Linked DNA regions of Homo sapiens. The protein of the gene in region 3 interacts with the protein of the main gene of each other region in a pairwise test. Each region holds a gene or a part of one and is shown on either strand. Other genes may lie near its edges. The genes, in order: PHF14, TAL2 and PCBD2.

Region 1 (3,659 bases), on a different chromosome or scaffold from region 3:
TATATTTTTCTGGCATCTTTTAGGTCTCCTTCACCCATTTATGTTGACTATTACTGCTTCTCAAGGCATTTGTATTTAAGGCCCTTGCCTCAGCTCTGCTAAGTCAGAATTTGCAGAGTTGGGCTCTAGTTACCTCTATTTAGAAATCTCCTTAAATGAATCTGATGACAGTCAGGTAATGGTTAAGGAAGATGGATCTTACATACTGGACATAGGTCTTGGTTCAGCAACTTAACCTCTCTGGCTTTCAGTTTTCTATCCATAAAATTGATATTAAAATGGTAGAACCCACCTCATGTGGTAGTGGTGAAGGTTAAAGAGATAGTATATACAAAAGCGCATGTGCTTATTTCATGGTAGATATTCAGAAACATGTTTTTCCCTTTCTGTCTTCCACTGGGAGTAGGATCTTGAAAGCTCCATTTCTCCAAGCAGGTTGAAGGGATATTCCATGTCAACCAATGCATTAATTAGGACATTATTTTGACTGGTTTAACAAAACCAAGTAACGAGTTGCTTAAACGAAGAAGTTGAATTCACTCTAATATACAATTCCAGGCGGATTGGATACTGAGGGGAGTTTGGTTCCAGGGATCAGTTCCCTTCTTTCTTCTTGCTTCACCTTCCTTTAGTCTATTGCACTCTCCTACACAGTCAAAGATGGTTTATCACCATCTTGACTGGATTCTTCCTCATTGGAAGTAGCAAAGAGGAGGTTAAGAGTAGGCAGCTTCCTTTCAAGGGCATGGTCTGGGCATTTCATACAACTTATTGGCCAGAACTTAATCACATGGCCACATCTAGCTGTGGGGAGGCTGGATCAGATAGTTTCTAGCAGGGTAGCCATATGCCCAGTAAAAACTCATAGGGGTCTAGTACTAATGGGAAGAATGGATATTGTAAGACAATTAGTAGTTTCTGCCATAGTAAGTATTGGTGTTTTTCTTAAGTCAGAGTCTTGGTCCAAATGCTTAACTCACCTATGCAAGCATGAATCCTATCTCTAATGACTCAATTTCAACCTCATTTACTTTGAAACATTAGAATAATTATCTAGATCTGGGTATTTGGGCTGAGGTTCGGTATAATCTTTATTTCCATTTAACATCTCTGTCACCAAGATTTAGAGCATGTCATGAGAAAGCAGCTGTTTGTATGTGTTAATGTAGTCTCCTAATTAATTTTTGTATTTAATTTTTAAAGCTATATGAAGTAATTGTAAGTAAACCCTGTTTTACTAATGTGGTAACTGAGGCCCAGAGATGTTAAGCAATTTTTTGAAGTCCCATAGCCTGTAAATGATAGAGCCAAGATTTGTATCCGGGTTTTTATGTCTTCAAATTCTGTGATACACATTGCTGTACTGTGACATCTATAGATATCACACTACAGAATTGCCTCATATGCTTTTTTTTTAATATTAAGGACACATTAGATTTTTTTTTCTTTCTGTTCTTATATGTCTCTCCTCGGTAGTGTTGTCATTTCTCTTTGGGTTGTAAAACTCTACTTAGAGACACTTTTGACATAACTTAGAGAAAAACTAATAGCTTATGTTTACTGTTCCTTTTTGGGACAGACATAAAGAATGAACAGCCTGTTGTTTTGTTAGCAATTACATTGTAAATTACTTTTTTGTACTACATCTTTACAAGTTGTTTTTGATAGAATAAATATTCTTTTTTGTACACTACTTTTTATGAATGAAAATGTACTGTTAGGCTATGAGAGAGCTGTAATTCCACTTGAGTTTTTAGGGAAAGAGTTAAGGGCATAACTTAAATTTTTTTATTGACAGGGCTTAGAATTTCTTAATTCTATTTTTTTTTTTTTTTTTTTTTTTTTTTGAGACAGACTGTCGCTCTGTCACCCAGGCTGGAGTGCAGTGGCGCGATCTCGGTTAATTACAACATCTCCCTCCTGTATTCAAGCAATTCTCCTACCTCAGCCTCCTGAGTAGCTGGGATTACAGGCACATGCCACTGTGCCTGGCTAATTTTTGTACTTTTAGTAGAGACAGGCTTTTGCCGTGTTGGCCAGGCTAGTCTCGAACTCCCAACCTCAAGTGATCTGCTTGCCTCGGTCTCCCAAAGTGCTGGGATTACAGGCATGTGCCACCACGCCTGGCCCTTAATTCTATTTTTATCCTCAGTAGAATCTGTCCATTGTTAGCCAGTTAGAAATGCCACACTTATCTTGTTGGCTAGTTGAATGTTGTTGTTTTGCAATATTAGTTTATGCATAACTTTAATATTTAATGATTATTTCTACTTAAGATTATTAAAATCCTATTTGTTTTAAACAGTGACTTTTTAAAAAAATACAGCCGGCCCTCCGTGTCTGTGGATTACACATTCTTAGATTCAACCAACTGCAGATCGAAAATGTTTGAAAAAAAAAAAGCGTAATAAAAAAGAATACAAATATAAAACCAATACAGTGTAACAACTATTTGCACATTTACATTTGTGTATTAGGTATTATAAGTAATGTAGAGACTGCTTAAAATATGTGGGAGAATGCATGTAAACTAGATGCAAATACCACACCATTTAACATAAGACGCTTGAGCATCCACAGATTTTGGTATCCTTGGGGGGTCCTGGAACCAGTCCCCCATGGATATTGAAGGGCTACTATACAAGTACACCCAAATAATACATTATATTTGATTTCAATATCTTTAAACCTGCAGGCCCTTTAAAGAAAAACGTTGTTGGTAATTTGAAGTTGACATACAAGATCAAGTTTCTAAAGAAGTAATTTTTGTCATTATGTACAAAAATTATTTTTGTAATTTATTAGATGTAACTAGCACTAGTAGATTCTTTGAAAAGGAAGTAATATTCTTTTGTGTTAGGTCTTTTATGACTCTTGGGAGTACAAATGTTCACTATTTTTCTGTGCTTTCTTTGTATAGGATATAGCAGATCCATTCTTTGCTTATTGTAAGCAACATGCAGATAGGTTAGACAGAAAGTGGAAGAGAAAAAACTACTTGGCTCTACAGTCCTATTGTAAAATGTCTTTGCAAGAGAGAGAGAAGCAACTATCACCAGAAGCACAGGTATGGGATTCATGTCAAAACCCGTATGTTTTTGTTTTAAGGTTATGTAAGGATTTTACGTCTCGTGTGGCTTCCAGTGACATGTGACGTATAATAGGAAGTTTGGTTAGTTACCTAGGAAATGGATTGTGATTAAGGTAAATAGTGAGTATAATTTTTGGCTGAATACAGTACTCCTCATTTAGTCAAACAGAGCAGTCCTTTATAAAGTAAATTTTCACATTGAAAAATGTGACTGTGAGGAAATTACTCTATCAGTGCAATATATTTATTACATCTTGTTTCAGTTTGTTCAAAGGATTTAGTCAGTTTGCCTATATTTAAAATATAATTTTATATACATTAAACCTATGGAGACAATAGCAGTTATTAAGAAGAGAAACTTCAGCTTAATTAGTTTCTCAAAACTCTGATTATAAGTTAGGACAGTTGTTACTAGGGGCAGATATAGTTTATTGTAACTCAAAAATTATACAGTATACCTTAAGGATCATTCATACCTATAATTTGCTTTGGTGTGAGAAGTTCTGATTATCTTTCTGTGAACATGGGAATAAAAATCAATGTAAAAATCTTAAGGAACATGTTTCAT
Region 2 (2,819 bases), on a different chromosome or scaffold from region 3:
CAAACCGGGGTTCTGGCCTTGGAGCCTGTGCTCTTGACCACCATGCATATGGTTCCACTGATGGCTGAGTTACGTGAAGACTCCTGTAGAGTCAGGGCTTGGAAAGGGAAGATCTCACCTGCTGTTTAAAGAAATAGGTAAGTAGAGAGTGGGGAGGAAATTCAAGGAACAGAAAATGACAATGTGCGAAAGTGTAGAGTTGGGAATATTCATGAGTCTTCGGAGGAACTAGAAAGGGCCCAGTGCCCAGAGGAGCTGAGCGTGGAGCAGGCAGCAGACCAATAGCAGTAAGCCAAGAACATCAAACTGCCTGGGGCTAGACTTGGGCTTGTTTGCCAGTGCCTCCCAAGTGTTCCTATTAGCACATGTTAATCCAAGCCACTTGAAAAAAGGGACTCTTGCCTCTAAGAGTGAAAAATGCCTGCATAATGCTCGGCAGTATGTGATGATAAACCACTCTCCTAGACTTGGAAAGGTCATCCAATGCAGCCCCAAAGAGGCCCAAGTATCTTCTACAGAATCCACGCCAAATCACCACTCCCACCTGCCCCTTGTCTTTTCATTTTTGCGAGACTAAATACCCCCACTTCTGTTCTTCATACACCAGGGTTTCAAGACCCTTCATCATTCTGTTCCTGCTCCTCTAAATATAGTCCAGTCTGGATATTTTAGTTCTTACAGAGAGGGGCTGAATCCTCCAGGTGAGGTCTGCCAGCTAACAAGAGAGCTGTATTGTCTTCTCTATTCCAAATTTTATTTTATTAACGAAACCTACAATCATTTTCTTTTTTTACTTCATTCTGATAATACATTGTTGATTCATATTCAACTCTCTGTTGGTGGCCGGGCATCGTGACTCACGCTTGCAATCCCAGCACTTTGGGAGGCCGAGGCGGGTGGATCACCTGAGATCAGGAGTTTAAGACCAGGCTGGCCAACATGGTGAAACCCCATCTCTACTAAAAATATAAAAACTAGCCAGGCGTGGTGGCAGGCGCCTATAGTCCCAGCTACTCCGGAGACTGAGGCAGGAGAATCGCTCAAACCCGGGAGCTGGAGGTTGCAGTGAGCTGAGATGGTGCCATGGCACTCCAGTCTGGGTGACAGAGTGAGACTCCATCTCAAAAAAAGAAAAAAACAAAAAACAAAAAACAAACTTTCTATTGGCCAAACATATGTTGCATTTATACATAAACTCAATCAATATTGTACCTGATTCTGAACAATTAGGAAGAGTTGGTTATAAAGGAAGAAACAGGAGTATTGGGACAAAGCAATCTTTCAACTGGAGGCTTCAAAACAGCCAGAGAGAAAAAGCTGAAGGGTGTTGTTCTTACCTTCCCCTGTTGTTTTTAAGTTAAAAAAAGAAATTATGCATAATTCATAGCGTCACTGATGCCTCGAAAGGTGAGAGGCATATGTTTGTGTCCCTGTGGGGTTGTTTTCTTTTTTAAAAACCTGAAAATGAGGAAATGAATCTCGTAAGCTCTGAGTCGAGAAAATCTAACATCTCAGGTTCTTGGCAGGACATGTGATACCAATCAGGCCTCTTATAAGATATTGGCCCTGAGGGCCCTTTCTCTTTCCATCTCAGGAACTCAAACATGACCAGGAAGATCTTCACAAATACCAGGGAGCGGTGGAGGCAGCAGAATGTCAACAGCGCCTTTGCCAAGCTGAGGAAGCTCATCCCCACTCACCCTCCAGACAAAAAGCTGAGCAAAAATGAAACGCTTCGCCTGGCAATGAGGTATATCAACTTCTTGGTCAAGGTCTTGGGGGAGCAAAGCCTGCAACAAACGGGAGTGGCTGCTCAGGGGAACATTCTGGGGCTCTTCCCTCAAGGACCCCACCTGCCAGGCCTGGAGGACAGAACTCTGCTTGAGAACTACCAGGTTCCTTCACCTGGTCCAAGCCACCACATTCCTTAGTGTGGCTCTGGCTGTCATCTCCCAGGGCAGCACTTGCCCAGAAATCACTGCCTGTGGACAGACTTTTGCATGTTCCAGAGTTGACCTGATGATAACTCGTGAAGCATGAATTCTAGCTTCCTGGGAGGTGGCTCAGAGACAGCTGCAGGGAGCTGAAAGAAGCCATGAGGAATGTCACTTGTGGGCCGCCACCCCCCAGGGATGTCAGGTAGAGCGGCCTACCTCTGCCTATTTTAAATCCAGGTTCTGCATAAGACTTTTGGAGAAAAAATTCTAAATAAAAAAAAAAAAAGGCTGAAAATCACTGTTTATACTCAATGTCTTCAGTTATAAGAAAGAAGTTTTCTCATAATGGATCTCAGATGAATAAGTAGAATATGCTTCCTTCAGAACATATTTTAAAGTTTGTTTTGAAAAATGAGATTTGATCAAGGGTGAACAAAATAAATCTTAAGATTGATGGGCCGGGCACGGTGGCTCACGCCTGTAATCCCAGCACTTTGGGAGGCTGAGATGGGCAGATCACCTGAGGTCAGGAGTTTGAGACCAGCCTGGCCAACATGGTGAAACTCCGTCTCTACTACAAATACAAAAATGAGCCAGGTGTGGTAGTGCGCACCTGTAATCCCAGATACTCAGGAGGCTGAGGCACGAGAATCGCTTGAACCCGGGAGGGGGAGGTTGCAGTGACCCAAGATCATGCCACTGCACTCCAGCCTGGGCAACGGAGCAAGACTCGCTCTCAAAAACAACAATAACAAAAAAAGTTTTCTCATAATGGATCTCAGATGAATGAGTAGCAGCATATGCTTCCCTCAGAACAGATTTTAAAGATGGTTTTGAAAAATGAGATGCATTTGATCAAAGGTGAACAAAATAAATCTTAAG
Region 3 (3,166 bases):
ACACCTGTAATCTCAGCACTTTGGGAGGCCGGATCACCTGAGTTCAGGAGTTTGAGACCACCCTGGCCAACATGGTGAAACCCCGTATCTACTAAAAATATAAAAGTTACCCTGCACGCCTGTGATCCCAGCTACTCGGGAGGCTGAGGCAGCAGAATCGCTTGAACCCGGGAGGTGGAGGCTGCAGTGAGCTGAGATCGCAGCACTGCACTCCAGCCTGGGCAACAGAGCCAGACTCCAACTCAAAAAAAAAAAAAAAAAAAAAAAAAGCACATTTCTAAATTAGGGAAATGGGAGTAAAGGATGGAATGCTGTTTCTTGATGAACTGATTATAAAGTAAAAGCAAAATTACGAGCAAAGAGAAGCAAATAGCAAAGAAAAGTTTAGCCTGGTACCAAGGTGCTCTGAGTTATTCTATTAAGTCACGTGAGTATTGTGAAATTCTCTTTTTTCAAAGATTTTCACAGAGAAGACTTCATAGAAATCTAGATGATAAGACATTTCAAATGGCATGACCATAAAGGCAAGGACACTTTGGGAGGAACAAGGTTCTTCTCACTGTGTTCCCTCAAAACTTTTTAGTCTGTCCTTTGTCTTAAATAAGGTCATTTCCTACGCAGGATACAAAATTTAATAGTTTTCAAAGCACAGTTCTTGAGTAAAAATATTTCAACGAGATAAATGAGGCCATATCTATCTGATTTGCTACCATTTCTTTCAATAATTTACCTTAAGTTTTGAAACGTATCTGCATGGCTGATACTCCGGTTTAATTCAGGAGCCTCATTTGGCCCAACTTTCTCATATTAGCTTCAGTAGAAAGACAAGCATGAAAATAAAGAGCTTATTCACTGTTCTTAGGAGCAGACCTGAAAATGTGTTACTAATTTGCAATAATACACAGGGATTCTGAGAGAAAGGATAAGACTTTCTTAAGTACAATGACATTTAGCTGCACAAGATGACAAGGAAGAAAGAAGTTTCTTAAACTCCATAATTAAGGTGATTCCCAAATAAGGCAGTTTAGTTACCTTGTTGTATACATTGAACCATTCTGGGTGATGATTCATCTTCTCTGCTTGTAGGGCAACTCGGGACATAAAGCCAAATGCCTGCATAAGATGAAGTCAAGAGTAATTACTGACATTGTCCTCTACCCTAAGCCTGAGAGACACAACAGAGCAATCCAACCACATAAAGGCAGGCAAGGATCCTTAGGGAAGCCTGTGGAAATCAACTATGAAAGGACTGCTCTCTGCAGGCCTCTGGGGTCACAGTGCAGCAGGACTGTGACCTACTGCTGGATGGTGAAAAACTATCAGGCTCGAGTAAACAAACCAGGAAATTGGTCTCACCTAGTGACCCGTCTGGACTATTTAATTGTCCTCAGGACAAGACTCTACAAAATAGCACGGGAATAATTTCCCTTCAACCCAGTGCTCTGGGTCTCACTACCTGGCTCCAAATATTAGGAGCCACTTTTCTTGCAGCTCTGTTCCTTTTGTTTTTAGTGATTGGGTTGCTAACTAAGGCAACCCACAAGACTATGGAAAAAGGTCTCCTGAGGGTGTCTTAAGCAAAAGCACCAGCAGAAATGAACAACTTCTTCATCTCACCTCCCAGGCAGGACAGGAACAAATCAAAGACTATTGGCACCTAGAGTGAAACAGAAGCCCAGCTTGCCTGCTTGGGTTCTTCCTGCTACTGCCCTGCACTGCCATTTCAAGGTGACAGTGCACCCACCTCAGGGCAGAAGGCAAGCCAGGAAATGAGCAGAGGGCTGCAAACCAGTCACACGACTAAGTGTGGACTGACGGGGCTCTGTCTTTATACCACACGGGGAGTGGAAACAATTTTGTTAAGCAGAAGGTAAACTTGTCTTCAGAAGAAGGAAAAAACTCATTTTTTTGTTTGTTTTCAATTTTTTATGAAGGTAACTGCAAACAATAGGAGAGTCTGTCTCTATTGTTCCAGAATGCACAAATACTTGGTAAGACTCTTAGGGTAATGGCACATGAATTACAAAGTTAGAGTGGCATTCACAGGGCAATACCCATTACACCCACGTAAACAAATATTTAACTTCATTACCCCTATCCAGAAAAACCAATATGATGTTAGTCAAGCCATGTTTTTGGGATCACCAAATGACCTAAGTGTGTATTTCCTAGTTAACAGTGAGAAATACAGAAGATGCCATTTTAAACAATTCTATATCATTCACTATGGTACCTCTCTCGGAGCCAATTTTATTTGGGATAAAAGTTTCCATGTTGACATTTGAGGCCTGAAGGTTTTCCCTATAGGAAAAGGGAGAAAGTTCAAGCAAAATCCATTTGACCATGTATGGAATTATCTGTGGAAAAACAATATTCACTTTCCCAGCCCTTCTCATCTCATAATCTGATTGTCTAGATTATGTGAAGGGAAGGGACAAAAGCCTGTTTTTTATTTTTATAGAGACAGGGTCTCACTATGTTGCCCAGGCTGGTGGAATGCAGGGGCTGTTCACAGGCACAATCATAGATCACTGTAGCCTCAACCTCCTGAGCTCAAGGGATCACTCAAGGGATCCTCCTGCCTCAGCCTCCCAAGGAGCTGGGACTACAGGTGCATGCCACCATGCCCAGCCATGAAAGTCTGTTCTAATTATTCAAACATAGAGTTAACCCACATTAAACTACGTATAAGGAGAATTTCTACTCTGCCTATAATGCCTTATTCTTGTTTAGCATTAGAAGATGTACAATGCTAATCAACATCACTGATAGACAGCAATGCAATTGTTAAGGGCATGGCCTTTTGAGCCAGGGAGTCCTGGATTCAAATCCTGATTCTATCACTTAATTATCATGCAATTTAACTATCAGTCTCAGTTTTCTTTTTTCTTTTTGAGACAGAGTCTCACTCTGCTGCCCAGGCTGGAGTGCAGTGGGATTATCTTGGCTCACGGCAGCCTTTGCATCCCGGATTGAAGCGATTCTCCTCAGCATCCTGAGCAGCTGGGATTACAGGCACCTGCCACCACGCCTGGCTAATTTTTGTAGTTTTAGCAGAGACAGGGTTTCACTATCTTGGCCAGGCTGGTCTTGAACTCCTGACCTCATGATCCACCTGTCTCAGCCTCCCAAAGTGCTGGGAATATAGGCGTGAGCCACCATGCCT

What was found.
Region 1: the proteins of PCBD2 (region 3) and PHF14 interact in a two-hybrid assay, tested with the Homo sapiens proteins (one large-scale study listed by BioGRID and IntAct).
Region 2: the proteins of PCBD2 (region 3) and TAL2 interact in a two-hybrid assay, tested with the Homo sapiens proteins (one large-scale study listed by BioGRID and IntAct).

The regions. Positions count from the first base shown.
Region 1 is NC_000007.14:11,032,720-11,036,378, forward strand, and holds part of PHF14 (PHD finger protein 14), read left to right. Parts: intron 1-2,920; coding exon 2,921-3,067; intron 3,068-3,659. UniProt on the Homo sapiens protein: Histone-binding protein. Binds preferentially to unmodified histone H3 but can also bind to a lesser extent to histone H3 trimethylated at 'Lys-9' (H3K9me3) as well as to histone H3 monomethylated at 'Lys-27' (H3K27ac) and trimethylated at 'Lys-27' (H3K27me3).
Region 2 is NC_000009.12:105,660,893-105,663,711, forward strand, and holds TAL2 (T-cell acute lymphocytic leukemia protein 2), read left to right. Parts: upstream 1-1,564; 5' UTR 1,565-1,604; coding exon 1,605-1,931; 3' UTR 1,932-2,232; downstream 2,233-2,819.
Region 3 is NC_000005.10:134,956,987-134,960,152, reverse strand, and holds part of PCBD2 (pterin-4-alpha-carbinolamine dehydratase 2), read right to left. Parts: intron 1,114-3,166; coding exon 1,033-1,113; intron 1-1,032.